Linked DNA regions of Homo sapiens. The protein of the gene in region 3 interacts with the protein of the main gene of each other region in a pairwise test. Each region holds a gene or a part of one and is shown on either strand. Other genes may lie near its edges. The genes, in order: PLG, ACOT13 and RBBP6.

The links.
Region 1: the proteins of RBBP6 (region 3) and PLG interact in a two-hybrid assay, tested with the Homo sapiens proteins (one study listed by BioGRID and IntAct).
Region 2: the proteins of RBBP6 (region 3) and ACOT13 interact in a two-hybrid assay, tested with the Homo sapiens proteins (one study listed by BioGRID and IntAct).

The regions. Positions count from the first base shown.
Region 1 is NC_000006.12:160,744,898-160,755,262, reverse strand, and holds the end of PLG (plasminogen isoform 1 precursor), read right to left. Parts: intron 3,149-10,365; coding exon 3,003-3,148; intron 2,364-3,002; coding exon 2,202-2,363; 3' UTR 1,166-2,201; downstream 1-1,165. UniProt on the Homo sapiens protein: Plasmin dissolves the fibrin of blood clots and acts as a proteolytic factor in a variety of other processes including embryonic development, tissue remodeling, tumor invasion, and inflammation. In ovulation, weakens the walls of the Graafian follicle.
Region 2 is NC_000006.12:24,661,645-24,671,922, reverse strand, and holds the start of ACOT13 (acyl-coenzyme A thioesterase 13), read right to left. Parts: upstream 4,847-10,278; 5' UTR 4,660-4,846; coding exon 4,579-4,659; intron 2,807-4,578; exon of another isoform or gene 1,985-2,806; intron 1,275-1,984; exon of another isoform or gene 1-1,274. Other genes in the region: TDP2 (tyrosyl-DNA phosphodiesterase 2), read left to right, coding at 5,061-5,225, 5,312-5,397. UniProt on the Homo sapiens protein: Catalyzes the hydrolysis of acyl-CoAs into free fatty acids and coenzyme A (CoASH), regulating their respective intracellular levels. Has acyl-CoA thioesterase activity towards medium (C12) and long-chain (C18) fatty acyl-CoA substrates.
Region 3 is NC_000016.10:24,533,936-24,544,618, reverse strand, and holds the start of RBBP6 (E3 ubiquitin-protein ligase RBBP6), read right to left. Parts: upstream 5,054-10,683; 5' UTR 3,993-5,053; coding exon 3,827-3,992; intron 1-3,826. UniProt on the Homo sapiens protein: E3 ubiquitin-protein ligase which promotes ubiquitination of YBX1, leading to its degradation by the proteasome.

The DNA.
Region 1 (10,365 bases), on a different chromosome or scaffold from region 3:
CTATCCAGAGTATTTTTATATAATGTTGGATGAGTTAGGATTATTTGTAGTGCTGTTGAAGTTTCTGGGAACACATAATATGTAGCTGGCTTAAAAAAGAGCCTCTCAGGTGCATGGCTCTTCCTGGTCTCTGATTCATTAGGCTAAAGAGAGACGAGAGAAGCCCCCCACCCGATTCTCATAACAGCTCCATCAAGAATGCAGGATTTGAAAACCAAGGATTTGGGAAATTTGTGCAGAAATGTTCATCAAATCTGATCAGTCAAGGGACTAAGCCCATAACCGAGCATTTGAAAAATTGCAGGGAGGATGAAAATTTGGGAATCCTGTTAATGAGGAGATTGAATCACAGGTTCCTGGGCCACAGAATGTGAGCATTCGTGTCCTCTGCTCACCTTGGTCTCCGCACGCCTTTGCAACATGAACAGGTCAGAAGTCTCTCCCATCTACCTTCTCTGTAGCATCTGGGGTTCCAGGCATGGTTTATGCCCCATTCCAGCAATAAGAACCAATCTGTTGTACAATCTGAGGTCTTGGTTCTGTTATTCATAAAATGATGCTGTGGTCCTGAGATTATTCGGGACATTTTTGGCTCTCCTTTAGTGGACACCTAGAGCCACAGATTTTCTTCTTTACTAAACAAATCCCATGGATTATGATTTCTGGGTCTTAGGATTTTAAAAATGAAGAGATATTTTTCATATATTTGTTAAGTTCAGTTCTGATGGTGCCCGTGGCCAAGAGTTAGAAACATGGACAGTTCCCATTCAGTCTTGGCACTTTGAGTTGTCTTGGGGAAAAGCTTACATTTTAATTTAAAAGAAAGGTCAATTATATCCATGCTTAACAGGATCAGCAGGAGCTTTATAAATGGCTTTACAGCGACTAATAAGGGCTTTGATCTTTCTTTTTTGTTATCGAGGCTTTTGAAATGTGGAACGTGTGTGTTCTGCTATGTATATTATATTCAATATCTTTTCAGATGCAGTCTATATTTTATGCTGAGCTTTTTAAATGAAATACTTTATGTGGACAGGCAAAACTGGTACCAAAGGGAATCCTTCAAAATGGGGAACAACATTTGTGTAAGGAGAACAGGTGACAACATATACGAAGTGTGTGCTAATTGTAAAATGAGAAACTTCATCCTTAAAGCACATCAGAATTGAATACAAATAATCTATTTGTCAATGAAATAAACACAGCTCTTTGAGGATTTGAGACTACATTCACCCTTTATTCACAGTCACTTGCAGTTTTGCTTTTCTCTGCATTTCTCTGCTGTAAGATGACTGTTGCATTGTTAAATTGTATTTTGAATGGATATTTTTGTTTGGTAACAATATTTTAAATGGTAAAACGTGTGCCTTTGTCCTTTCTCTTCCTTCTAAACATGTATCTCTCCCACAGGTCATTCTCCTGTGACCGTGTGTACTGCAGACTGTTTCAAAACCGGGCAGGCAATTAGCAATGGGAAATAAGTGGTCCACCTTCAATATTTGCTTGTTGTTCATTTACATGCTCTTGGCACCAATCCTAGACTCACGTGTGCCCCAGAATAACATTCAGACTCTCAGTTGGTCTTGTGTTACACATCCATGGACCGGTTCACTCCATCATATACAGCTCTCTGCTCCGTGTCCCCTGGGCTCAAGTCAAGCAGTCGGTGACAGATTTCATTCCCAATAACAGAATCGGTTTGCATGACTCCCCATACATGTTGCAGCTTTGAAAACATTCATCTCAGTGTCAGGAATAAAGACAGTAAAAATGCATGTCAAGCCCTCGTTAGCTGATGAGGTAAATGCGTGGACAACTTCTTGGCTCTCCCCTCTGTGACCTTGCAGCCTGCTCAGTCCTTTGTGCAGCTGTTCCTTATCAAAAGCAGCTAAATCCCCCCATCTGCCCATTTAAAAATTGGTGGGGTGAACAAAGAGCATGAAAATGTTGAAGACCAAAACCAAAATTTACTCAAATCAAAGTTAAGTACAGAGTTTATTTTTAACAAATGTCATAGCTATGTCACCTTACTACAGAATCCAGCAGTCAGAAAATAACACAAAAAATGCCGAGGTTTGGCGTAGCTGGTAGCTGGGGACAGTGTCTTCGTTTGATTACTGCCAGTTATTTCCAGCATGCTAAATCCCTACCCACGTTCCAGCCTCTAGGTGAGTCAGTGCGTCACTCTGTCTCCCGTCCAATTAATTATTTCTCATCACTCCCTCAATCCAAGTAACAAACCTTGAAACACGAACATAGACACCAGGCTTATTGGGGCGTGCACAGCCAAGACCCCAAGAAGTGACTCCTTGTAAAATGTATTTGTCCTTCTCGAAGCAAACCAGAGGACCTCCACTGTCACCCTATACAGAGGGAGAGAAAAATGCATGTGAGGGTTAGGCTGCCTGCCTTTTATTATGGGATGCCATCCTTCTACTATCCATATATACATTTTCCCAGTAATTGAAATCAGAAAGGAACTTATGAGCATATTACTCAAGCATCTGCAGTGCTTAAGTACTTAGCAAAATCTGTTTAGCGAAACCACACCACTTAGTTTTTCCGGGGGGTAGAAAAGATCTTTTGTGAATCCTGCACACATCCCTTCCTATGTTGGTGTTTCCTTTAGACTGGGCTAGCCTGGGCATCAGTGTAAAGTGTGTGCAGTTGGTCTCTGTCCTGTATCCTCTACCTCCTTCCCTACCGGAAAAGTCACCACTTTAGTCCCTGGCCACCAGCACACCCCAGGAGGGTGAGTGGCCTGAGGTAGTTATGGCACTTAAAACTCGCTTGCTACTGATTTGGAACTCAAGCCCCAAGACATCCCCTTAGATGATCTGAATACGCATTCAGGGACAGATCTAGGAAGTTTCTAAACAACACTTAGACTGGGGTCTTCGGTTGAAAATCCTTGAATTTGCCACCTGGGGAATGAAGTCTGAGGGGCTGAGACTGAGACAAGAGAGCACAAGACTAACTTTGGTCTCTTGATCTTTGCTTACCTGGCAACTGTCAGTGCCTCCGGCCAAATGCCCAGCACAGAGTTCGGTGGATTGGACTCTTCCATTCAGAAACTCATAGCGATTGCACACTTTATTCTCAATCACAGGGAGCTGGGCTTCCTTGAGAAGGCCAGCTCCAAAAGTACCTGTGTTTAAAAAGATGAAAGAAATGGCAACTGCACCCAAAACACATTCAGGAGGATATTCCAGAACAGAGCAGCGGCACTGGACCTCCTGTCTGTGAGGCTGCAGAACACGAGGCAGCTCCCAATGCCGCTGGAGTCTCTGACCCTGCAGAGTGTAAACATCATATATGATTCTGTGTTCCTGAGCCCTGGAATTAACAATCTGGGCTTTGTCGTGTTGGTTTGGGGTTGGTTGTTGTTTCTTTACTTTTTGCTTTTAAAACTATAAAGAATAATGTTTAAAATGTAGAGTCTGAAAAATGCAATTGCTATTTTTATATACTCTTTTTTCAGATGTTTTAATATGCTTCTTTTACTAATTACATCATAACACAAAATTTCACATCTTGATTTTTTCACTCATCATTGTGTCATGAGTTTTGTATAATGCTATGATCTTCATAACTAATATGTTAAGGGGAGCTACTGCTTAATGAACATGAGGTTTCCTTTGGGAATGAGGAAAATGTTCTGGAAATATGATGATGGTTGCACATGATTGTGAATGTACTAAATGCCACTCAGTGGTACCTTCCAAAATGGTTAAAATAGTAAACCTTATGTTTTGTATATTTTATTGCAATAAAAAAGAATAGTCATCATTTACCAAGAATTAACCTTTCCAGACACAAGCTTATAATGCGATGTATCTCACTTAATCCTCGCAATAGTCCTGTGAAACAGGCACTTTTATCATTTCTGTTCTACTGTTAAGGAAACTGAGGCGTAAGGAGGTTGTGTAGTTCAGCCTGAGCCTGGGTCTGTGGAGTCACTGCCCAAATGCTTCCTCCCCATGCGTGTTGGCCCCACTCTTGCTTCCAGCTTTCCACATCTTTGTTCATAAAGTTCATTCTTATTCCTTAACATTTTCTGAGTCTAAGTTCCCATAAATTACATAGACATATTTCTGTCTCCCAATAACGTTGCCAAATTATTTTCTAAAAGGGTGTGACAGTGTACCGTGCCACTAGAAAACAATCACTTCACCTCACTTGTATGAGTCTTCAATTTTTAAAATATTAGCTAATCTAATAGGTTGAAATTGTCCTGATTCATTTTCTAATTTACACTTCTTTGACAATTAGGGAGAGTGAACATTCTAGTTGTATTTCTGCCTTTGTGAAAAACTGCTTTATTTTCTTTGCCAAATTGAAATAGAATGTCTGCAAAATTGCCAGAGAAAATGCCGTTTTTCCAGATAGACATGCCCAGGGATGTCTCAGTGTCGTCACAAATAATCTAGTTTTCCAATTTTGCAAGCCCAGGTTTCATTAAAATTTTGCAAAACTCTTTGCTTTGCGAGCATGACACAGGTAAGAACCGAGGCACTCTCTCTTTCCCCAAAGCCTTCGACTGCATTTAGATCATTGTCTCGGGTTCAGAAAACCGACACTGAATCTGGAGTTTACATGAGCAGCATGGAAGAGGCTCATCCCAGCGCCTGGCTCCAGAGCCCAGCTCAGCCCTATCTGGGCAGAGCTGCAGGGAGGAAGCTCCTCTTGACTACCAAGCATTGGGCAGTGGGTGCATCACCTGGACTGTGTAGTTGTGTGAGGGAGCACCCTTCTCAAAATGTTTTGCTGAAAATTAAGTTAGGTGTCACTGCTCTGGGATCTGCTCTCTGAGCAAGGCAAACACGCTGATAAGGGGGAAAACCCACCATGAGTTGCTGGGAAATTGATGCAATCTGTGAGTAGGTGCTGCCTTCCAGTGGTAGATGTAGAGATGGCACCTCTGAGGGCAGAAAGGCCACAGGTGACCTGAGGATTGAAGCCCTCCCCGATGGGGCGTTGGGGAGAGGGCAACAGGGAAAGTCCAGCAGCAGGATCAGCTCAGTGATTGCAGATGATGGCTGACCTGGAAAAACCCCTTGGCCTCAACACCTCCAAACTCTGCGTTTGGAATATCCAAGTCAGGGAACATCTGGAAACATGAAGGGAAGAGCAGGAGAATTTCAACTTCCCTCTGAGAAGCAGAGAACACCCATTGCTTCAATGTCATTATTGACATGTAGAAAATTGAGGAGCAGGCCTGAGTTATGTTTTGTGACTCATCCTGGTGGTTGGCGGTGGGACTGAAGAAACAGTGAGTGGGCTCTGGGCTCAAGGTCCAGCTACAAACTGGTTATGTGATGTCTATTGTTAATGATAGTGATGGTGGTGGTGGTGGTGGCAGTGGTGGAATGGTGGTGATGATGAGGGTTGTGATAAGGGTGGTAGTGATGGTGGTGGTAATGATAATTGTGCTGGTAGTGAAATGATGGTGACGGTGATGGTGGTGGGTAGTAATGATCATGGAGGTGGTGGCGGTGGTGATGGTGATGGTACTGGTGGTGGTAATGATAATGCTAATGGTGGTGGTAATCATAATTACTATCATGTTGATAGTGGTGATGATGGTTATGGTGATGATGGTGGTGATGGTGGTGGTAGTGGTGGTGGTGATGATGGTGGTGGTGATAATGGTAGTGATGATAATGGTGATGGTGGTGGAATGGTGGTGATGATGGTTGATAATGATGGTGATGGTGGTGATGATGGTGATGGTGATGTTGATGGCAGTAATGATGGGGGTGGTGGTGGTGGTGGTGGTGATGATAGTGATGGTAATGTTAATGGTGATGGTGGTGGAATGATGAGAGTGATGGTGTTGGTAGTGGTAGTGATGATGATGGTGGTGGTGATAGTGATGATGGTGATGTTGAGGGTGACAATGGTGGTGGTGGTAATGATAATTGTGATGGTGGTGGTGGTGATGATGTTGGTGGGGATGATGATGGTAGTTGTGGTTGCAATGTGGATGGTGATGATGATAATGATGATCATGAGGCATAATCTTAATCCTCACAATGACCTTATATGTTGGTACAGGTGAGAAAGCTGAGGCTAAAAGAGATTAACTAACTGCTCAATCTCACAAGGAAGATGGGAGAGCCAGAACTCACACACAGATCTTTATGATTTTAGCTTCGTGCTTTCATCAGTTGAGGAATTGTAGAGGATCTGTTTGCTTTTTGGCTGCCCAGCAGCCTATCACACTATATCCTATAATCCTGTTGAGGGAACTACACTTTGCCCCCATCTTGGTATGAGTGTGGTCCTGCGTCCACCTCCAGCATGGAACAGCTGATGCAGGTTGGAGTTAATCAGTGACGGGTTTAGGGGCAGGCTGGTGACACAAGTTCGACCTCTCAGAGCTGGAAGACTATTGTTTGTGTAATGGGGAGAGTGGCCTTCCTTATTTCTTTTCCTGGCAGAGCCAGAGCCACCACAGCATCTGCAGCCACGAGAATGTCACATTTGTGCCCAAGAATAATGGACAGGGTCTGGGGCCATGATGTGAGCCTGCAGAATTTTCAGTTCACTAATGATTTCTCTTTTTTGCTTAATCCAACTTAAGTTGCATTTTCTGTCACTTGCAAGAAAGAGTCATGTTAGATACAACTCTATTCCATATTATTATCAGGAGCTGCCATGATGGACTTCTTAGCATGTGCTTGGTGCTTGGTGCACTTTCTTATTGTTTCTCCCCCAATAGCCCTGCAGCCCACATTTCAGCTGAGGAAACAATCAACAAGAGTTCACAACCCACCCACCCTTCCTCCCTCCCTCCCTCCCTCCCTCCCTCCCTCCCTTCTTTCTTTCGTTCTCTTTCTTTCCCTTTCTTTCTTTCTTCCTTTCTTTCTTTCTTTCTTTCTTTCTTTCTTTCTTTCTTTCTTTCTTTCTCTTTCTTTTCTTCCTTCTTTCCTTCTTTCCTTCTTTCTTTCTTTCTCACATAGAGTCTCACTCTGTCACCCAGGCTGGAGTGCAGTGGCACAATCTTGGCTCACTGCAACCTCCACCTCCCAGGTTGAAGCGATTCTCCTGCCTCAGCCTCCTGAGTAGCTGGGATTACAGGGGTGTGCTACCACACCCGGCTAATTTTTGTATTTTTAGTAGAGACGGGGTTTCACCGTGTTGGTCAGGCTCGTCTCAAGCTCCTGACCTCGTGGTCTGCCTGCCTCGGCCTCCCAAAGTGCTGGGATTACAGGCGTGAGCCACTGCACCCAGCCAGAGAGTTTATGACTTTTCTAAGTCCTGACAGCCAGTAAATGGGAGCCAGGGTTCTAATTCAGGTTAGTCTGTACCATCCCACACATTCTCTGAGCCTCAGGCTCCTCATTTGTAAACTAGGAACAATAATATGTAATTCATAGAGGTTTGCAGCATTTAAATTTTTAAAAATGCAAAACACTGGGAGCAGCCTGGCACACCCATAGGTGTTCCTCCTTTGCCAAGGTTCCTTTTACTTGGCCTCAATGCTCCCAGACCCAGCAGTGCAGAAAGGGAGATCAAGAAATCAAGGAGGTAAAGTTTTTAAATAGTAGGAAAAGCACAGGAAAAGGAAAGCCACTTTGAAATCATCTAGACCATTCGTTTTTAAATGTTTGATTAAACCAAGAAAACAAAAACAAACCTTTCTTCAAATGAAAACTTATGCAAAGGCTGATGTGAAAAACACCACTTGAAAATGCTGGGTTTTTGAATGAGGGGTTAGAGCTGAGTGGTACAAAGAGGTAACGTGCCTAGTCCAGGTCTATCTAGCTAGTGGCAAAGTCAGAACACACTTCCAGGGCTTCAGACTCCTAATGCCCTCCTAGCACCTCTGAGAAACTGCAGCAGGGATCCTAAGACAGTCTTAGTGTTTCAATGGCCAAGGGGACTAGGCTGATGGATATAATTATTGTCAGGGCATACTGCAAAGAGAAGAAAGAATCCCTAAAATGTATTACAGGTGCTGATACCATATCCTGCACAAGTGTTCCCTCTCTTGTTCTCATCCACACCCATCAACCAATACCAAATGCCATCCTAGACCTGGGGCCATGGGACCTGTCCGCCTCTCCCCCAGTTGTAGGTCCCCTGTTTAACACCATCCCACTTACATTAGACATGTGGGTATTTGGGAAGAAGACTAGTCTAATTATAACTTTTGTTGTTATTGTTTTACATTGTGTTAAGAAAGCCAGTCTGGCTAATTTCACATGAAAAATAATCTAACACTCTTAACTTGAGGGCTGGGTGAAAACCCCACTTACCCAGGGAAGCATACTCAGGAATGCTGAAATTATGGATTAAGAGACTCAAAGACCTTTACTGTTTTTTTGCTTGTTTTAGGTGTAGGGAAATATACAAATAAAAAATGGATCACACCCCAAAGCTTCAACACCAAAAATACCTTGCTAACATACCACACTATGAAACCAAAGACAAGAAATCAACTACAAATAAAGACCCTGCACAAGGCTTTGGCCCTGTAAAAACATCCAAAGAACAAGTCTATTGGCTGTATTCAACCTACACTGCAGTTAAAGGAACATAAAGGCCGGAGTGCCATATGTCCTCCAAACAACCACACTAGTTCTCTAACAAGGGTTCTTAACAAGGCTGAGCTGGCTGAAATGATAGAACTGGAATTCAGACTATGGATAGGAATGAAGATCATCAAGATCCAGGAGGATGGCAAAATCCAATCCAAGGAAATTGAGGATCACAATAAAATGATATAGAAGCTGAAAGACAAAATCACTGGTTTAAAAAAGAACCTAATGGATCTGACAGAGCTGAGAGCTGAGAAACAAACTGTAAGAATTTCACAAAGCAATCCAAGTATTAATAGCAAAATAAACCAAGCTGAGGAAAGAATCTCAGAAATGGAAGACTGGCTTTCTGAAATAAGACAGTTGACAAAAATTAAGAAAAAAGAATGAAAAGGAATGAACAAAGCCTCCAAGAAACATGGGATTATGTAAAAAGGCCAAATCTACAAATCACTGGCATTTCTGAAAGGGATGGGGAGAAAGTAAACAATTTAGAAAACATTTCAGGATATTGTCCATGAAAACTTCTTCAACCTTGCTAGAGAGGCCAATAGTCAAATTTAGAAAATACAGAGAACCCCTGTGAGATTCTATACAAGAAGATCATCCTCAAGACACATAATCATCAGATTTTCCAAGGTCAAAATGAAAGACAGAATGTTAAAGGCAGCTAGAGAGAAAGGACAGGTCGTCTACAAAGGGAACCCCATCAATCTAACAGCATACCTCTCAACTGAACCCGTACAAGCTAGAAGATATTGGGGCCTATATTCAATATTCTTAAAAAATATCCACCCAAGAATTTCATATCCAGCCAAACTAAGCTTCCTAAGCAACAGAGAAATAAGATCATTTTCAGCTAAGCAAATGTTGAGGGAGTTGGTTACCACCAGAACTGCCTTACAAGAGATCTTGAAAGAAGCACTAACTATAGCAAGATGGCTACCAGCCAATACAAAAATATACTTAAATACGCAGACCAATGACACTATAAAACCATCACACAAACAAGCCAGCATAACAACACAATGAGGGCATCAAATTCACACATAGCAATACTAACCTTGAATGTAAATGGGCTAAATGCCCAACTTAAGAGGCACAGAGTGGCAAGCTGGATAAAAAGCAAGACCCACTGGTATGCTACCTTCAAGAGACCCATCTCACATGTAATGACACCCATAGGCTCAGAATAAAGGGATGGAGGAGAACCTACCAAGCAAATGGAAATCAGACAAAAAAGCAAGGGTTGCCATCCTAATTTCAGACAAAACAGACTTTAAACCAACAAAGACCAAAAAAGACAAAGAAGGGCATTACATAATGGTAAAGGGTTCAATTCAAAAAGAAGATCTACTATCCTAAATACATGTGAACCCAACACAAGAGCACCCAGCTTCATAAAGTTCTTAGAGACCTACAAAGAGACTTAGACGCCCACAAAATAATAGTGGGAGACTTCAGTACTCCACTGACAGTATTAGACAGATCATCGAGGCACAAAATTAACAAAGATATTCAGGACCTGAACTCAGCATTGGACCAAATGGATCTGATAGACCTCTACACAACTCTCTTTCCCAAAACAACTGAATGTACATTTTCATCACCATGTGGCACATACTCTAAAAATCAACCACATAATTGGACATAAAACAATCTTCAGCAAGTGCCAAAGAACCAAAATCATACCAAACACACTCTCAGACCACAGCACAATGAAATACCAGTCAAGACTAAGAAAATAACTCAAAACCGTACAATTACATGGAAATCAAACAACATGCTCCTGAATGACTTTTGGGTGAATAATGAAATT
Region 2 (10,278 bases), on a different chromosome or scaffold from region 3:
ATATGTTATTGGTATGTGTTCCAAAATTATGGGAAATTCCTGTAATTCTGATATGACCTAGTGTACATTATCAGTAATAATCATAATTGTTACGTTAAAATTATTGTGTGCTACAGAGGAGAGGTATCAAATTTCCTTGTCAATTGTGTCTTTGCCTATGGCTGCCCTAAAACTTTTAGTCATCCACGCACAATTGTTGTGTTGTTTTGGTCCTCTTTAGAAAGTGTTTTTTTTTGTTGTTGCTGTTGTTGTTTTTTGAGATTCATTATTTATTCTTGATAATGTTTTCTTTGTTAAATTTGTTTTTTTAAATTATACTTTAAGTTCTAGGGTACATGTGCACAACGTGCAGTTTTGTTACATATGTATACATGTGCCATGTTGGTTTGCTGCACCCATTAATTCGTCATTTACATTAGGTATTTCTCCTAGTGCTATCCCTCCCCCATCCCCCCACCCCACGACAGGCCCCAGTGTGTGATGTTCCCTGCCCTGTGTCCAAATGTTCTCATTGTTCAATTCCCAACTATGAGTGAGAACATGCGGTATTTGGTTTTCTGTCCTTGTGATAGTTTGCTGAGAATGATGGTTTCCAGCTTCATCCATGTCCCTACAAAGGACATGAACTCATCCTTTTTTATGGCTGCATAGTATTCCATCGTGTATATGTGTCATTTTTTCTTAATCCAGTCTATCATTGATGGACATTTGGGTTGGTTCCAAGTCTTTGCTATGGTGAATAGTGCTGCAATAAACATACATGTGCATGTGTCTTTATCGTAGCATGATTTATAATCCTTTGGGTATATACCCAGTAATGGGATGGCTGGGTCAAATGGTATTTCTAGTTCTAGATCCTTGAGGAATCACCACAGTGTCTTCCACAATGGTTGACCTAGTTTACACTCCCACCAACAGTGTAAAAACGTAACTATTCCTCCACATCCTCTCCAGCACCTGTTGTTTCCTCTTGAATGCAGGTCTCCATTAACTTTGGAGATTGTTACATGAGAATAGAGGAAAAACTTTCAGAACTCATGGAGAGCTAAAATGCTCATGAATATCAAGCAGAATAGGAATTAACTAAGGGGACTGAACTAATCTTTTTGACTTTTTGCTTAAACATTGCTGATCTTTTGCTTTGTTTTTCAGAGCCTTGAAACTTTTCTTTTGAGCTATTGACAGCTTTTAACAATTTAGTATACTCCAATCAACAAAATTTGGAGCATATTTGTTTCTCTCTACCTGATTTCTCCAGAATTTGTAAACTATTTGTGAGTATTCTTAACTTGTGCCAATACAGTTATTTGCATAAGTGCAGTAAGAATCTGTTTTCATTTGTAACAGGACACAGTTGGAGAAACTGATTATTTTACCAAGGCTTTGAGTGGAAAGGTGTACTTTCCTTTAAGTAATCAAACCTGACTTATGGAGCCAATAAAAGCCCTTGGGAAAACTGGCCTCACACTTTACAAAGTCCCTGTACAGGGTTTCTGATATGTGCTAAGTAAAGAATGTCATTTTCTGACAGGTCCAGGAGCCCCTGGTTTATCATGGAACATCAAAAAGAGGAAATTCACCCTACTCATAGGTATTTGATGGTACAAATCCATGGCTGAGCTTGGCTTTAAAAAGAATCTTATCTGAGATTCCTTCTATGGAACAAAGTTCCTTCAAAGCCAATTTTAAAAAGCCTATGTGAAAAATAATTATTCTTGCTACACTTTATATAAATAATCTGGTCAAATATAATAAAGCAAATCAGTCCTACCATGATTTGTCTTTAGTAAAAATGGAAAACTGGAGAGAGAAAAATTGTTTCAAAACTTACAGTCCACTTGTTGTTAGATACTAGTCTTGCCTAATTTTTTCAATTTTTATTATTTTCTACAGTTTAGGCTGAATTCTAATTTTTCCTGGCTACAAGTCTCCAAAATAATATTTTTAATTTTTTTCTTTTCTTTTCCTTTTTTTTCCTAATTAGGAGTCACTGAAAACAGCTGTGCTTTTGTAAAGCCCTGCAAACTGAAGCTAGACAACTTAAACTTCAGAAGAAAATAACAGCAACCTATTTACACGCATAAGCCACTTTCATACCTGCCTACTGATGTATGGACTTCAGAATAACGTGGCCTATGTATATTTTCCAGGATTGTTCTTTTGTTTGTTGTTTTTCACCCTTCCTCCCCCTATTTTCTCTTCACAAGACATGGGAGTTCACAGCCTTCTAAAAATTAGCTTTCCTAATAACTTGGGACTTACCTGTCTAGGAATAAACCATCCTAGCATGAGCGATCAGATGAAATCTGGGACCAAAGACTCATTTTTCTTCTAAAATGCTTTCTCCAAAAAAAAATTTTTTTTAAAAAAAAGAAAAGGGGGCAAATGTAAAGGAAAATATCTTGGGCCCCCAAATCACTAAGTTAAAAGGAAAATTCAAGCTAGGAACTACTTAAGACAAACTTGCCTCCCATTCTATTCAAAGTCATCCCTCTGCTCATTGAGATAAATGTGTATCTGACTGCCTCCTTAGGAAAGGTAAATCAGAAACTCAAAAGAATGCAACCATTTGTCTCCCACCTACCCGTGACCTGGAAGCCCCCTTCCCGCTTCAAGTTGTCCCGCCTTTCCGAACCCAACCAGTGTTCATTTTACATATATTGATTGATGTCTTATATGTCCCTAAAACGCATAAAACCAAGCTGTGCTCTGACCACCTTGGGCACATGTTGTCAGGACCTCCTGAGGCTGTGTCACTGCGTGCGCATCCTCAACCTTGGCAAAATAAACTTTCTAAATTAACTGATACCTGTCTCAAATTTTTGGGGTTCACAAGGTTTAGTTATAAATGCTTCTTATGGAGCATGATTTTCTTACAAGCGAGGCAGGAGAATCGGATCTGGAGGCAGGGAACCTAGGGCTGTTTCACGCTGACTTCCTAGAACTAAATTGAAAGTAAAACCCTAACTTCCCACACCAAGTAACAAAAGAACCAGAGGCTTCTCCCTTTCCAAACCCCCACCTTTTCTGTGTGGCAGATGGGAAATTGAAAGTACCTCTGATTGGTTGCAAAAAGCAAAATTACGCTAAGAAGTAAGTTATCCCTTAAAAAAAATTATTCTTTCTGCAACCAATCAGATCTTCCCATAGGAGTGTAACTATGTAACTTCACCATCTGATTGCACGCCACGTCTTCGTTTGCATATAAGGGCAACTTTGTAACTTCACTTTAGCCTTTCATTGGTTGCTTTTCACAGCCAATTGTGGGTCACCACTTCATTTACATGAGATGAGTACCAAGTGGCCAATAGGAGACTTCAATGGGGTATTAGGGCCCCTGAGCTGCTGCTCCACACCCCAAACACAGGAGTGTCCTTTCATTTTCAGTAAATCCCTGCTTTTGGCGGGGCATGGTGGCTCATGCCTGTAATCCCAGCACTTCGGGAGGCCAAGGCAGGTGGATCACCTGAGGTCAGCAGTTTGAGACCAGCCTGACCAACATGATGAAACCCTGTCTCTAATAAAAATAAAGAATTAGCCAGGCTTGGTGGCGCATGCCTGTAATCATCCCAGCTACTTGGAAGGCTGAGGCATGAGAATCACTTGAACCCAGGAGGCGGAGGTTGCAGTGAGCCGAGATCGTGTCACTGCACTCCCGCATGGGCAACAGAGCAAGACTCCATCTCAAAACAACAACAACAACAAACACCTTCAAGGTCTGGCGTGGCGGCTCACACCAGTAATCCCAGCACTTTGGGAGGCGGAGGCAGGCGTTTCACCTGAGGTCGGGAGTTCGAGAGCAGCCTGACCAACATGGAGAAACCCTGTCTCTACTAAAAGTACAATATTAGCTGGGCATGGTGGCGCATGCCTGTAATCCCAGCCACTCGGGAGGCTGAGTGAGGCAGGAGAATTGTTTGAACCAGGGAGGTGGAGGTTGCAGTGAGCCGAGATCGCGCCATTGCACTCCAGCCTAGGCAACAAGGGCGAAACCTCATCCTAAAAAAACAAAAACAAACAAACACCTTCGGGCTTTGTGAGTGCTGGTCTCAGAAAAGCACTCAGTCTTCCTCCAAGGGCTAACTTACTTCTTCAGGAGTTGGGTGCCTTTGAGAAATTTCCCAAACCACTACAGAGGAACAACTTCTCCCTTCGTTCACCACTCTACCAAGCACTTGGCTTTTGTACCTTATTGCAATTATTTATCTTCTAATCTTCTAGAGCCTAGAGAATTAGACTGTAATGTGCCTTAAATGCAGAGGTTTCTCTTACTCTTCTCTGGAGCAATGCAGACGTTTGTTGGTTGAAGGATCAAACTCCAAAGTCCCTCCCAGCCTTGGAACTGTCTCCACGAGTCATAACCATACTTATCTATGTTTAGATAGAGAACTTACGCGTTCGACCCAGCATATTTAGGGGCTCCATTAAAGTAATAATCATTATTACTAAGGTGAATTTACAGGCGTACTAGAACACAACCTAACAAGAGATAATTATTCAAAGCTCACAACGGCACCAAGCACGGTGCTTTCTTTTCCTTCATTAGAAGCCACGGCTTCTCCCCTACCTTTCCCATACCTTTCCCAAAACTCTCTCAAAATTGCGAGCCTTGGTCATGGCCTTTATCACCTCCCGCAGAGACTGAGTCATGCTGGTCATCGTGGACGGTTTTCCAGCCTTTGGGCTTTGCGCAAGAACGAACTTCGGAAGAGCTGGAAAGTCCAGAAGTTAGTGAAAGAAGGAGGACACAAAGGGCGAAGAGCCCGCACCCTTCTCCGCCCCTAGGAGCGCAAGAGGCCGGGAGTCAGGCGAGCTGGCAGCCCCGGTGGTCCGCGATTTGCTCACTGACTTTCCTCGCACCCTTGTGACGAAGCGCGCATGCGCGCTTCGCACCCACCGCCCCGGCGGCTCCCTTGCGGCGCAGCTGCACCAGTTTTCCGAGAGCAGCGCATTTCCCCGCCGGGCGGTTGATGCGGGAGCGCCATGACACAGGCGCCTGCGCAGAGCCGCGCGTTGGCCTCCTGTTCCGCTTAAAGGGGCGGTGCAGAGGCGGCAGGAAGATGGAGTTGGGGAGTTGCCTGGAGGGCGGGAGGGAGGCGGCGGAGGAAGAGGGCGAGCCTGAGGTGAAAAAGCGGCGACTTCTGTGTGTGGAGTTTGCCTCGGTCGCAAGCTGCGATGCCGCAGTGGCTCAGTGCTTCCTGGCCGAGAACGACTGGGAGATGGAAGTACGCTTTCGCTGTCCTCGCTTCCGGCTCCATTACCTAGGTCGGTGGAGCGCACAAACCTCATCCCTTGTGCCTTTGTTTTTCAGAGGGCTCTGAACTCCTACTTCGAGCCTCCGGTGGAGGAGAGCGCCTTGGAACGCCGACCTGAAACCATCTCTGAGCCCAAGACCTAGTAAGTGATGAGGGGAGCGGGAGCCAGTCCGCACGGAGGCAGTTTGATACCAGGTAGCCCTGCGCGTCCTGGGACCTGCCGTGGAGCTGGGCGGACGATGCTGAGGCAGATCTCCAAGCTGCGTAGCCAGAGGAGCAGGGCTTGCGTTGCTGCTGCTGCGCGGAGTTGCGCCCCAGCAGCGGATCTAACACTGCACCAGACTGTCGCTTCGAACGTGATTTGGGGTCCAGGGAGGAAAAGATGGAAATGTAATGTTTAACTCAAATGAAAGGAAATAAGTAAGCGAGAGGTTTGAAACAAATGAACGAAGGCTAAACCTTCTATCGAAAAATGGCAACTTGGAAGTCTCCTTGCTTCCTGTATTGTTTATTTATTCTAGGCCCTAGGCTGACCGGCCAGAATAACAGGTTTGTTGTTGTTGTTATTTTTTTTTAATGCACACCTACTCCTGTTATTTCAGTGCCCCTCTCCAGTTCCTGCACTTAAAAAGTGTAGCTGCCTTACAAGGCCCTCTACTATTTGGCTCCATAACTTAGAACCTGCCTTTCCAGGTTCCAGGCCTATCAAACTTTTACTTTTTTCCAACGGGTCATTTTCTCCTGTCTTTGAAACTTCGTAAAGATCTTTATTACCTGTGCCTGGAATTTTTTTCTTTTCCCTTCCTTGCTAATATTTGTCTTAAAGCCCCAAGCTGAGACATGATTTATCTCTAGGAAGCTTTTCCTGATGTCCTAAGTCTGGGTAAGAGTCCCCTTTTAGGTACTCTTATAGCATCCTGCATGACCCCTGTTACAATACCTTAGTCCGTATTATAATTGCTGTTCATTATTTTATGTCTCCTACTAGACTGCACATCTAGTAAGGAGTATCTGTTTTGTACATTGTTAATTTCCCAAAGTCTGACACAACATTTGACACATAATAAGCTCCCAATAAATATTTACTGAATGTATAAAATTCTCCCAGCTATATGTACAACCTGTAAAATTGACTGTTCATAGTGGAGACTTTATTTTCCCTTTGGTCTTTTCAGCTACACTGGCTTACAGATGTGATAAGATATTTTCTTTAGGTTCCTTTCTCTGTCTTGCCTCTTGTTGGGGAATTGTTTACTCACCCACAGTGATTTGTCTCTGGCTCCCGTTTTACTAACCAGAGCAAGTTGGACTAGGAGGTGTTTGCCTAGCTCAAACTGGCCAGTCAGATCCTCTCCTTGGTTTCAGAATTAGGACCAAGAGAGTCAAGTCTGAGTCTTCCTATGGAGCTGGAACTGTAACATGTTAACTTAGCACCTGTGAGGATTCATACATATCTTTTTTTGTGTACAGAGAAGCTGAGAACAGAGGTCTGCAGAGAGACAATGAAGCAGAGGGAAGTTGAAGTGTAGGATTGAGAGAAAGCCCTTAACTGCCCTTCCTTAAACATGGCTGTATTTCTGTACCAGGCTCTGTGACATGTTTGTTTCCTTATAAATTCTCCTGTTTTGGTCAAACCAACCTGAGTTAATGTCTGTTGGTTGCAACAGACTATATTGTAACCAATAAATAGTAACAAAATAAGTGGATTTCCTGTAATAGGCCCTCAGAAAAGATGCGGATCAAGCTGATCAATGGTGTCATGGCTATTAGGATTCTCTTACCCCGGAATGGTAAATTGGCAAAAACAAGCAAAGGTGTTGATTAGGCTGTGGTCTCTTGTCTCTCAGAACTCAGGTCAAGTATGAATGAGAGTGAGGTTTTAAAGTTTAGTTTGCTCAAGAGAGAAAAATGGGGAAGGGGCAAACTTCAGCGTGTTTCTAAGGCCTGTGACCTGATTAGATTTTTGATGTTGGCTTTAGCAAAAATGAAAGGGAAAAAAAAATTGATTGGAAGATTTTATGACCAGAAAAACTCAACCCTGCTGAGCAAGGGCATTGGCTGTCTTAAATGAATGGCGCAGGAATCTCAATTCTGGAGTGAATTCCTGGGATATCAACAAAAATTGAAATTGAACACTAAAGTGATTTAGTCCCCTACATTAGAATCTATCTTCAGTGTCTCTGATGAGAGACAAGGGAAATCCTCTTAAAACAGCTATGCTGAATCTTAGCTGCATATTGGAATTATCTGGGGAATTTAAAAAAAAAACCAGAGATTCTAATTTCATTAGTCTTGAGTGGGGCCCATTATTCCTTATTGGCTTTTTTTTTTTTTTTTATTAGCTGTGCAGGTAATTCTAATGCAGAGCCAGCATTGAAAGCCCGTGTCCCAGAGCCTTGTTATTTAGAGTGTGGACTCTGGACCAGCAGCGTGCCACTGCTACTCGGGAATTTGTTAGACATGCAGAATCTTAGGTCTCACCCAGACCTACTGAATCAGAATCTGTATTTTGACAAGATCTCCAGGTGATTTAAAATTGAGGAGCACTGGCCTAACACATAAAACCTAAGACACCAGATATACTGACAAAAGCACTTCCTCCTCTGCTTAGGAATGAAGTCAACAAATCATGCCCCTAAAGTTTGCCAGTCCCTTTCTGTTCCCTTAGTATTTCTGTACAGCAACGTTTTAGAGTTTATTTCCCTTTTCATTTTTCCAAAAGGAAATTTTTAATACAGTTGCCTGGTTTTTCTTGCTGCATTAAATATTAAATATTGTGGGTGTTGCATAAATTGCAGAGATATTTGTATTAGGTTCTTGTGTTGCTATAAATACCTGAGACTGGGTAATTTATAAAGAAAAGAGATTTAATTGGCTAACAGTTCTGCAGGCTCTACTGGAAGCATGGCCCCAGCCTCTGCTGGGCCTCAGGAAGATTTCAATCATGGCAGAAGGGAAAGGGGAGCCCAGGTATCACATGGAGAGCGCAGGAGCAAGGGGGTGGGGTGGTGCCACATACTTTTAAACAACCAGATCTTGCAAGAAGAACTCAGTATCGTGAAGATAGCACCAAGACATTAATGAGGGATCTGCCTCCATGACCCAAACACCTCCCACTGGACCCCACTACCAACATTACGGATTATATCTCAACATGAGATTTGGAGGGGACAAACATCCAAACTATATCAATATGGAATTGGATTACAATGAAACAGAGGAGGAAAGGATGGCATAGTGAATAAGAGCATGGACTCTGGAGCCAAAATGCAAAGGTTATAAGTCCACCTGTGCTATTTAGTAACTGTGTAACTTCTCTCTGCCTCAATTTCTTTGTGCAGTGGGGATAGTAATATGGTTCTGAGTCTACCTGTGCTATTTAGTAACTGTGTAACCTCTCTCTGCCTCAGTTTCTTTATCTGTGCAACCCCTTCCTCATGGGGTTGTTGTAAGGATTAAGTGAGCTAATAGATGTAAAACACTTGGAATTGTGCCTGGCATATAGAGCTCAGTAAGTATAAGCTATGATTAATGACACCATCATGCTCTCCCCATACATCACCCATGACAGTCCACCTGTTGAGGAAAGTAGGGGTTGTGTTTACAGTTTTATGAGGTAGATTGAGTTATAGTTGGATATCTTTAAACTTGGAAAAAAAGGTGTGTGTGCCGGATAGGTAAGGGGCCTGATGTGATGAGCAAACACCTTTGTCTATGATAGTATATATATTTTTAAATTCAGCTATGAAACAGAAGATTTGACAGAAATAAAGAGCTAATAATTTCTCCTTTCTGGTTTTAATGCTTTTCATAAAAAGGAAATAACATCTTTGATCAGGCATGGAATCACTTGGCTTTTTCTCTCTGGTGGTAAGATGAAGGGGGCCAGCCCCTCCACACCTGTGGGTATTTCTCTTCAGGTGGGACGAGAGACTGAGAAAATAAATAAGACGGAGAGACAAAGTATAGAGGAAGAAAAGTGGGCCCAGGGGACCGGCGCTTAGCATACGGAGGATCTGCATGGGCACTGGTCTCTGAGTTCCCTCAGTATTTATTGATCACTATCCCCATCTCGGTGAGGGGGATGCGACAGGACTAGAGGGTAATGGTGGAGTCAGCAGGAAAACGTGAGCAAAGGACTCTGTGTCATAAATAAGTTTAAGGAAAGGTGCTATGTCTGGATATGCACGTAGGCCAGGTTTATGTTTGACTTTACACAAACATCTCAGTGCAATAAAGAGTAGTATTGCCGCCAGCATGTCTCACCTCCAGCTATAAGGCGGTTTTCTCCCATCCAAGTAAATAGAATGTACGATCGGGTTTTATACCGAGACATTCCATTCCCAGGGACGAGCAGGAGACAGATGCCTTCCTCTTTTCTCAACTGCAAAGAGGCCTTCTTTCACTAATCCTCCTCAACACAGACCCTTTTTGGGTGTCGGGCTGGGGGACGGTCAGATCTTTCTCTTCTCATGAGGCCATTATCTCAGGCTGTCTCAGTGGGGGGAATCCTTGGACAATACCCAGGCTTTCTTGGGCAGAGGTCCATGTGGCCTTCCGCAGTGCATTGTGTCCCTGGGTACTCGAGACTGGAGAATGGCGATGACTTTTACCAAGCATACTGCTTGCAAACACAATTTTAACAAAGCACATCCTGCACAGCCCTAAATCCATTAAACCTTGAGTCAATACAGCACATGTTTCTGCGAGCACAGGGTTGAGGCTAGAGTTACAGATTAACAGCACCTCAAGGCAGAAGAATTTTTCTTAGTACAGATCAAAATGGAGTTTCTTATGTCTTCCTCTTTCTACATAGACACAGTAACAGTCTGATCTCTCTTTCCCCCACAGTAAGACGTTGAAAAAAAGTCTAATAGCTCATTGTTGAATAAGAGAACTTTTGGGTAGGATGAAATTCACAAAAGAAAGTTTTGCACTTTTTTTTTATGCTCTTGAAGGTTATTTTTATGTAAAAGGGAGACAATTCAAAATATTTTATGCTACAAAATTGACATTAAGTTCA
Region 3 (10,683 bases):
CACAACCAGGCCTTTTTATTGTCATTAAGTTTACTTGCTTCACTTAAAGTTACTCTGCACAAAGTGACTATCTCTGTTCTTCCGATTATTACGCTTACCACATATGTAGGCATATTCGGCTTTTAATGTATATTAATTATTTTTAGTCATAATGCTAATAGTATTGTTAGAAATGAAATTGTTCAGGCAAGGGTTATTTTCTATATACTTCAAGTAGAAGGCACTATCTCACAGGCATTCAATTAGAGGTAGGCAATTTCCTAGATTTAGGCATGCCAATGTAGGACTATAATCTTTATCTTGGACAGTTCATGATAGCCCCAAATTCCGAGGAAGCTTTGAGTCAGAAAAACTGAGAGCATGGGGTGACTAGATTTTTTTAAAAGTTAATTCTAGAAATAAAACTTTGTGTCAAACACCTGACAGGAAGTTTCTGAATATGTAACAACTCAATGCACTCACAAGAGCTTTCCAAGACAGCTTATTAATTTGATTAGCACCGTACTGTGTCAAACTAAAAGGTGCCTCAATGCCCTTCAAAACAGATGTTCTAACTGACTTTTTAAATACCTGAATTACAATGATTTCTTACCCCTCAAAGTATCTTTCTAGGGGTAATAAAGACACTTTGGGGGTATTTCATTTAAAATACCTCCTTAACAAGTAGTCTGTTGGCTTCAAAAGACCCTTTCTGCTTGCCAGTTTTTTTGACCCCAGACATGAAAGGCATGGATGAAATGAAAAACAGAATGAATCCGAGAAATGGAGAGTAAGAAAGGTGACAAGGGTCATTTATAAACACTTCATATTCAGCTTCCAAACCTCTCACACTTTAATTTCAGAACGAAGGATGTTTTGTTTTTTAGGGGTCGGTGTGCAGAAAAGTTTCTCATATATAACAAAGATTACTTGATATTCATTTTGAAATACAGTCTAGAAACAAGCAGGATTCTTGTCTAAAATCCATGGAATTCTGACCCAAGCGTTTCAGTCTTATCAAGATTTAAGGGTCCTATGCCAGGCACAGTGGCTCAAGCCTATAATCCCAGCACTTTGGGATGGCCTTGGGAGGCCAAGGCAGGAGAACACTTGGGCTCAGGAGACCAGCCTGGGCAACATGGCAAAATCCCCATCTCTACCAAAATAAAATAAAAAAAAATTACAATAAATTAGCCAGGCATGGTGGTGTGTGGCTGTAGTCCAGCTACTTGGGAGGCTGAGGTGGGAGGATCACCTGGGCCTGGTAGGTTGAAGCTGCAATGAGCCAAAATTGTGCCATTATACTCTAGCCTGTGAGGATGTGTCTCCAAAAAAAAAAAAAAAAAAGATTTAAGGGACCTAAACATGCACATAATTCCAAAACTGTAAGGAAATGTTTTACAGAAACATGGTAGATTAGGGATTTTAAAATTATAAGAATGAAATTAAGAAACTGGACCTTAACTGTGATAAAAAGATTACCATAGTTTTCTTTAGTAAATATGTTGAATATCGGTGCTAAAACCAAATGGCATTCTACTCAACTGCCTTGTGACATTGGATACTATTTCCCATAAAACTAGTTAAGTAGCTACCATCAATATCTCTTTCTCTCTTAATTTGAGGACTGCATAAAATACACATTTTCTCCCTCAAAGCTCCCTTTTCTTAACAAACCGAACATCAAAGCTTTCTCCAATAAAGGGCAGTTCACATAAATATAAAAAAGAAAATGTGCTGGGCAAAAACACATTCCTGGCTTTCTGGGTTTGAATTACGTATCATTTATTTCCTGGGCTAGGAAAAAAAAATTGGTTACACAAAGTCACAAAACTCTTAAATTTCCGGACAGGATTCTTTTAACTATAACTTACCCAGTCTAAAGTTGCATTCACATGCCTGTAATCCCAGCCCTTTGGGAGACCCAGGTGGGTGGATCACTTGAGGCCAAGAGTTCGAGACCAGCCTGGCCAGCAAGACAAAACCCCATCTCTACTAAAAATACAAAAAAAAATTAGCTGGGTGTAGTGGCGCATGCCTGTAGTCCCAGCTACTTGGGAGGCTGAGGCATGAGAATCGCTCAAACCAGGGAGGCGGAGGTTGCAGTGAGCTAAGATGGTGCCACTGCACTCCAGCCTGGGTGACAGAGTGAGACTCTGTTTCAGGGGAAAAAAAAAAAAAAAGCTGCATTCAATTGTTGGGTCGAAAAGATGGATAACGCCTAGCCCTAATGATTCGATTGTGTAATACTCCAGTAAAATATGAAACCTGAATATATGACGATTAAAATTGCCTTAATATCCTTTAATTCCATTCATATTGTCTCTCCTCTCATTCATAAATACTCAATATGTCAAGATGGCCCAAACTTCTTATAAACCCATCTGTTCTGTGAAATGTGACTGTTGTAGTTAAGGGATGCTTGTGAGGCACTTAAATAAAGCTATTTCTCAACTGTTCATGACCACCACCAGTTTTTCCTCTCCTTAGGCAGAGGATTACACATAGCTCCAATTATCAAAGGGTATGACACTTGTTTTTAAAAGGTGGGGAAGCAGACAGTATTTTCACATAATATCATTTGAGCAAATAAATTCTTCCTTAATATTTTTGAGTCATGATATGCCAGCACTGCTGTTCCTTAACCTAATACAATTATACTTAGGTCTGCATTGTAAATGGAAAACTGGTCTTCTACATGACAAGATTTACTCTACCTAAACTACAGGCTGGAGGTGGGGGACCTCCCATTTCAACTAAAAGAATCCATGTCACACCTTAAGTGTGATAAAAATTTAGTGACTAAAAAAATACCCTAACCTAATTGTAACTTCACTTCTTCTCATTCCATCAGTAACTTTTAGAACACCGAACTGCTAAAAAATACACATCAGCATTACTGATCTGAGAAAAAGAAACCAAAACAAGTTCAGAGTCAGGAAAGACTGCTTGTCACATTTATCTACTGTTAAGTTCCCAATATTATCAAAATACTTTTGAAAAGGAGAAAGAATCTAACGATTCTTATCAGTGGCTTATTTGTACTCTATGGTAGCAGCCTATTTTTCAGTACCTTAGTATCAACAGTCACGTAAAATCTAGCAACTACTACTTTAAAAAAAATCAGTACTTTTGATCTTCACCGAATTGATAAAGCTTAAGAGTAATGTGATGAACTAACAGTTTAACTACTTAATTGCCGTATTACTAATTCTGGAATTGACACACAAGACAAGAGCGGTGACATCAGAACATTTCAAGATCCAAAAACAATTCCAATACTGATTAAATCCTCAAAAATATTAAAGTTCAGATCCCTTATCCACAACACAGGCAAGCAACTCCAAATAAATAAATGCGAGGAGGGAGGAAGGCAGGACATAAAATTTGCCATCAAACTCCACAATGTTGTTAGGTTAGAAAATTGTTTTTTTGGTTTTTTTTTTGTTTTTTTTTTTGCTGATTGAACAAACAAGCTTTGCACAGGCTCTCCTGCCCTCCTGATGGAAAATAAGTTAGAAAACGCCCTAAGACAAGCACTCAAAGAGTCTAGATAGCTATCCCCCTCTCCTCCCTCCCTCATTTTAAAAAACAGCGAGAAGAATAATCAGGCTTCCACGTTTTGGGTTAGCCTGTTACAGATGACCCAAGTATGCAGAAATAAAATAAACCAGTGAAACTCCAAGGCCAACTGCTGCAAACCTTGGCTATCAATGAAAGTTGTATCCAAAGTACTAGAACGAACAGTCCCCACTAGAGACATAATGGCGGTTAGCTTCCTGCCAGGCACCTTCTAGCTAGTATCTCTCTCCAGCCACCAAATATCTTAAGACCAAGCGGCCCTTACCTTCTTTCGTCTGCGCATTGGTGATCTGCAGGTCGCAGTCGGCAGCTTTCAGCTTCTCTCTCCCCATAATCTGCTTCTTTAAGTCGCAGAGGGAGATGTGGAGCCCATCAAAGGTGACGGTATCATAGTTGAGTTTAGAGGAAAATTTATAATGCACACAGGACATGGTGCCAAGGGATTCCTAAGGTTCAGCGAGGAGACGTGGACACTCTCAATATACGTATATTTATAAACTTTAAGAGCAAAATATGTACACACAAAACACTCAAAGACACCGAAGGACCCTAAGGCCTCAGATTAAATACCCCCCAACCACAAGCAGGGGTTCGTCAGAACAATAATCCAGAGACCCCCCGATACTCAGAATCACTTCATGGGGGAGGAGGAGGACGAGGACGGGGAAGAGGGGAAATCGAGAATCCGCCAACGGGCACAATGTCACCCGGCTGGGTCCCCCTCGCTCATGCTAAGGGGCCGGCAGAGACGGGGGGATTGGCGGTGCAGTCAGTAGCGGTCAGTCCACACGTTAAGAGTCCGAGCGACCCCACGGGGTCAGGGGTCCATAGCGCGGCCGCACCTCCCGGCGGGTCTCTCTCTCCGTGGATTGGGGTGACCCAGGCCCCGGGAGAAGGTTGAGGGGAGAGGGCCTAGGCCCGGAGTCCACGAGCGGCCTCACGCCTCCTCCTGGCTTCCGGACGACCGGCGTCAGCTTCCCCAGGCCCAGGCCCAGGCCCCCACCGCACACAAACCCCTGGCGCCTGCTCCCCGGAGGCCACGAGCGGCCCCACGGCCTAGGCCGAAAACGCGCGGTCGGCGGAGGAGAGGCCTTCCCGCAGGCCGCCCCCGGCTCCGCCTCCCCCCGCCGCCGCCGCCGCCTCGGACACAAAGCCGGCGCTAGGCCTCGGCGAGGCCTCGGAGCACTTCCTCACCACCCCGGGCCCCAGCCGGCGGCCGGGTGGCTTCGGCGGACCCCGGGGACACCGCCGAGGCTCCCTGACGCTTCTTCTCGCCGGATCCTCCGCGCTTCGCTCGCCTTTCGTTTCCGTCGCCTTGAGGCCCGGAACCGCGAGAACACGCCCGCAAGCTGCTGGGCAGCGGCTAGGGCTTCTCCGGCTCCCTTTTTGTGTTGGCCCCCTGCCGCTCGGGGGCTCTCACCGAGCGGCGGCGACACCTCCAAGCCAGGTACTATGGCGGACGCGGCCTGGCTTCGGACGAGCGCCCCACTGCGGGGTCTCTTAAGCAGGGATTGCACGGGCGGCGCGCGCGAGGCGGGGCTGGCGTGCGCGGATAGGCGGGCCGAGAGGCGGGGCGGCTGACGTCACAAAGCGCACGGCCCGCCCACGTGACCCCGCGCTTTGTGACTCCAAAGCGCGGAAACTGAAAGAGCAGGGACAACGGGAAGAACCATCTGCTTCAAAAGGGAGGGGGGTTGCGCGTCAGGAGGACCGGCTCACAGGGAGGCTCGGTGGGGAGAGCTCGCCTTGCAGGGGCTGCGTGCAGTTTCCACTGCAAAGTGGCTTGCCTAGGGGTGGCCGGCTAACTCCCCCTTCCCCACAGGCCCCGTCAGCTCCTCTAAGCCTCCCAATTTAAGTGAGCATTATGGTTGCTACGCAGAAAACTATGGTTGCTATGCAAGCGCTCCCTAGCTGCTGCTTCCAATAAACTGGCTACCCTATACTCTTGACAAGTGGAAATCGTGGAGCAGCCGCTGCCAAGAACTGATAACAGCCACCAGCACCATACAGATTTATTGAGCTCTTACTATGTGCTAGGCACAGGGCTGATCGCATAACAACATTGCCAGGCTCAGCAGCCACGTTGTCTGGGTTGGATCCCTGGCTGTGGGGGCTCTAGATTTAACCCCTCTGTGCCTGGGTCTCCTTGGCTGTAAAATGCCATTAAAAATAGTACTTGGTTTACTTGGATTAAATAAATGCACATAAATCCATAGTCTAAGACCATGCCGGTGCATTGACGTGGCTCAATGCACCGAAATATTAATAGCTGTAGCTCAATAAATGTCAATTTAACAACAAAAACCCTACGTGGTCAACATGACATTATTTCCGATTTATAGATGATGGAACTGAAGCTAGCAATCATGTACTTTCTGAATTTGCAGAAGGGGATGCCTGCTCAGTGGCAGGGTCCCGATTCCATTCCTAAGCGCAAATGCCAGGAACAGTGACAAGAACCCCCTCAGTAGATTGGAATTTTTTTTTTCCTTTGGGCATGGGGACGTTATTACATTCAGAAAAAATCATAATATAATAAAATTACATTCATAAACGATAGTTATTATCGTTTACAATCCATGTTCCTCATCCTCTCTGAATTTTACAGGCTAGGCTCAGTGAATTTAGGCAACTGAGAATAAGATCCTATAGCCGAGAAGTAGCAGAGTTTCCCAGGGACTTCCTGCAAGCACACTCCAAATTCTTACTGAACTTGATTTAAAATTAATCACCATCCTGCCAGAAAAGCCTTCCTAAGGCCATCTTTTTAAAATAAGATGGCGATCTTTCTCTATCCCTTTAGTCTTTTCTTCCTAGCACTTGCAGATAGTTGACAGTTACACATTTACTTTTTAATTATCTATCTCCCCCAACCCCTACCTTCGGCTGACAATAGGAATCTTATCTTTATATTTGTTTTTGCTGTATCCTCAGCTCTTAGAACATAGTAGGTGCTCAATAAATACGTGCTGAATAACTGGATACATTTTTACGTGATCCATAGAGATGTCGTGGCAATAAAATTTTGGCCGTAGTCAAGGGCAGCTCTAGAGATACCATTACAATTTAACTCAACCACACACATCAGTACTTTTCATATATAACAAGTTTCTTCCACTTTTACCTCTTTGTTATTTCACCAAAAACTTATTGCTGCCAGGTCCTCTTCAGGTTGGTTGCTTTTTTCTTAAAAGCCTCTGTGTGAATGAAAGGGCGAGGGCTATCTCTAGTGAAAGAAAAACTCGACGAGAAAATTGCAAGCCGTCATGGAATTCACTCCGAAGCGGTGAATCTGTTCCTTTTGCCCGTCTGTGGCCGACCCCTTTATATACTGAATGCCTAATTTAATCAGCGTGGTGCATCATGGGATCTCAAAGTGGGCCACACCCTCAGGATATGACAGAGTGGATCATAACCTAATCTGCAGGGGGGGATGTCCTTGGAAAGAATGTTGTCTATTGGTCCAACCGTTCTCATCTGCCAAAAACTTTGTTCAACCTTGATATTCTCACTTACAGAGGCCTCACTTCATATCACATCAAACAGGTCAAAATGCATTCACCACCTGCAATAAGCCTATGACTTGAGTTGCCTGACTAATTGACACAATGCTACATTTGGTCCATTTCACTGAATTCCTTTACTAATCTTCATTTTGCAGTTTTCTTTTTTTAAAAAAAAAACTTTTTATTTTCTTTTTTCTTCAGTGAGCTGAATTGTAAATTTTGCCGTTTTCTTTGGGTAATATGGAGCTGGTCTCCCTGACGCTTCTCTCCCTACCAATATTTTTGTAAGCCCTGAAAAAGCCTTTTGTACTATCCTACAGTGAATGAAGCATTCCTGTCTAAGCTTCTCATAATGTAACAATTCTGGAGCTCCCATGTCCCAGGATTTCAAACCTTTGTCATTCTCAAACCCAGTATAGCCTCATACCATTGACCATAGACAGTTAGTAAACCCCTTAACTTATTTTCTTATGTCAAAATTCAGTTCCAGCAAGCGGAATTGGGAGATCCAAGGAGCTCTGCCTGCCTGCTGTCTGTAGTGAACTACTCAAGCTCAGGAAGTCGGAATGAGATCTATTTCATGGAGGCTGTTCTCTTTTTGTTTGTTTAATTATTAGTAGTATTATTTTGGAGTCCGGGTCTTGCTCTGTCACCCAGGCTGGAGTGCAGTGGTGCAATCACAGTTCACTGTAACTTTGAACTCCTGGGATCAAGTAATCCTCCTGCTTCAGGCTCCTGAGTAGCTGGGACTATAGGCTTGTGCCAACATGCTCAGCTAATTTTTAGTTTTTTCAGTAGTGTCAGAGCCTCACTATGCTACCCACCCTGGTCTCAAACTCACGGCCTCAAGCAGTCCTCCCGCCTTGGCCTCCCAAAGTGCTGGGGTTACAGGACTGAGCTTGTGCCTGGTCCCACGGAAGCTGTTCTATGCTTGTATATTGAATGTAATCTTAAAAATGCACTAACAAGGCCAGGCATGGTGGCTCACGCCTGTAATCCCATTACTTTGGGAGGCCCAGGTGGGTGGATCACCTGAGGTTAGGATTTCAAGACCAGCCTCGTCAACGTGGTGAAACTCTGTCTCTACTAAAAATACAAAAATCAGCCTGGCGCACTGGCGCACACCTGTAATCCCAGCTACTGGGGAGGCTGAGGCAGGAGAATCACTTGAACCCAGGAGGCGGAGGTTGTGGTGAGCCGAGATCTTGCCACTGCACTCCAGCCTGGGTGACAGAACGAGACTGTACCTCAAAAAAAAAAAAAAAAAAAAATAGTTCTAAGCCTCTGTGTTGTCAGTCCAATTCACAGAAGGTAGATACATCCCTTACATCACACTGTATTTTCTCCAGAGAGTTGATTGCTTTTATGTTGCCTTTCTATTTTATTTAATATTTCAGCCTACAGTTGTTGGGGTATTTTTTATTTTTTTGCAGTTTATGTAATACAGCCCATCGACCGGCAGGGTGCTGTGGCTCATGTCTGTAATACCAGTACTTTGGGAGGCTGAGGTGGGAGGATAGCTTGAGCCGGGGAGTTTGAGGCAGCAGTGAGCTATGATCGTGCCACTGCACTCCAGCCTAAGCAACAAAGGGAGAACCTGTCTCCAAACAAACAAACAAAAGTCCATTGACCTTTCTCCCTTTATGGTTTTTGCTTTTGCTTTGAGAAATGGCTTGTAGCCCACTCAGCACTCACCTTAGATATTTTTTTGCTATATTTCCTTCCAGTTTATATATAGCTTCATGATTTTAAACTCCATAATCAATCTGATTTTTTTTGGTATATAGGGTATAATATAGAATGAAGATCACTGTATTCCCTTTTTCATTGTGAAGTATATTGTTAATAAAGAGTCCATGAGTGGTGGCTCACACCTGTAATCTTAGCACTTTGGGAGGCCAAGGTGGGAGTATCACTTGAGCCCAGGAGTTTGAGACCAGCCTGGGCAATATGGCGAAAACCCATCTCTACAAAAAATTAATAACTTAATCAGGCATGGTGTCGCATGCCTATGGTACCAGCTACTCAGAAGACTGAGGTGGGAGGATTGCTTGAGCCTGGGAGGTTGAGGCTACAATGAGCTGTGATTGTGCCACTGCACTCCAGCCTGGGTGACAGAGTGAGACCCTGTATCAAAAAATAAATAAATAAATAAATAAATAGAAAAGGGACAAAATATATATCTCGCTCTGTTGTCCAGGCTGGAGTACAGTGAGACAATCTCGGCTCACTGCAACCTCCACCTCCCGGGTTCAAGCGATTCTCTTGCCTCAGCCTCTCGAGTCACTGGGATTACAGTTCAGCACCACGCCGGACTAATTTTTGTATTTTTGGTAGAGACGGGGTTTCACCACTTTGGCCAGGCTGGTCTCAAACTCCTGACCTCAAGTGATCCACCTGCCTCGGCCTCCCAAAGTGCTGGGATTACAGGCGTGAGTCACCGTGCCCAGCCTTATTTTAATTTTTTTTAATGTTTATTTTTTGTCGGTACATAATATACTCTTTTTTAGAGCAGTTTCAGGTTCACAGAAAAATTGAGTGGAAAGTATAGGGTTCCCATATGCCCCTCTCCCCTCATACAGTTTCCACTATTGTTAACATTTTGCATTGATGTCATATATTTGTTAGGATTGATGAGTCAGTATTGATACATTATTAACTAAAGTCCACAGTTCATATTAGGGGTTACCTTTTGTGTTGTGCATTCTGTGGATTTTGGCAAATGTATAGTGACATATAAAAATTCCCCTGTGTCCTTCTTAGTCATCCCTCCTTCCTGTTGCTGACAAAGGGATCCCCATCCAGACCTCAAGATAAGGTTCTTGGATCTGGCACAGGAAAGAATTAAGGATGAGTCTCAGAGTACAGTGAGAAGAGATAGTGTATTGAAAGCTACTTCATTGCAGAGTAGGGCATCCTCAGAAAGCAACAGGACGAATGCACTGTCTTTATTTTAAACTCTTCTAATATAGGGTCTTATCTATGTAAAAGCTAAGCTGTGTCTATGTGCTAGTAGGCTGGCAGCATAACAAATTTATTACCTTGTTGATTTAAAGAAAATTATCCTTGGCATTTTAGTGCGTAAGTATATCAAAAAGCATGACTATAATGGTTGTAAAATCATATATTGTTATGAGAGATCGGGACATCTGGACATTTTGTTGTTGGAGGAGTTTGTCCTTGCAGGCATTACTAAGCTGTTTCTTCAGTTGTAAACATCTTATGACCATGAGCCGTGACCAGCAGGGAATGTGCCTTGCTAGTTTTAAGATGGAGTCTGTTTTAAAATGGTGACACTGGCCGGGCACAGTGGCTCACGCCTGTAATCGCAGCACTTTGGGAGGCCGAGGCAGGTGGATCACCTGAGGTCAGGAGTTAAGACCAGCCTGGCCAACATGGTGAAACCCCATCTCTACGAAAAATACAAAAATTAGCTGGGCATGGTGGTATGGACCTGTAATCCCAGCTACTCAGGAGGCTGAAGCAGGAGAATCACTTGAATCTGGGAGGCAGAAGTTGCAGTGAGCTGGGATCGTGCCATTGCACTCCAGCCTGGGTGACAAGGGTGAAACTCTGTCTCAATAAATAAATAAATAAATAAATAAGGTGTTACCCT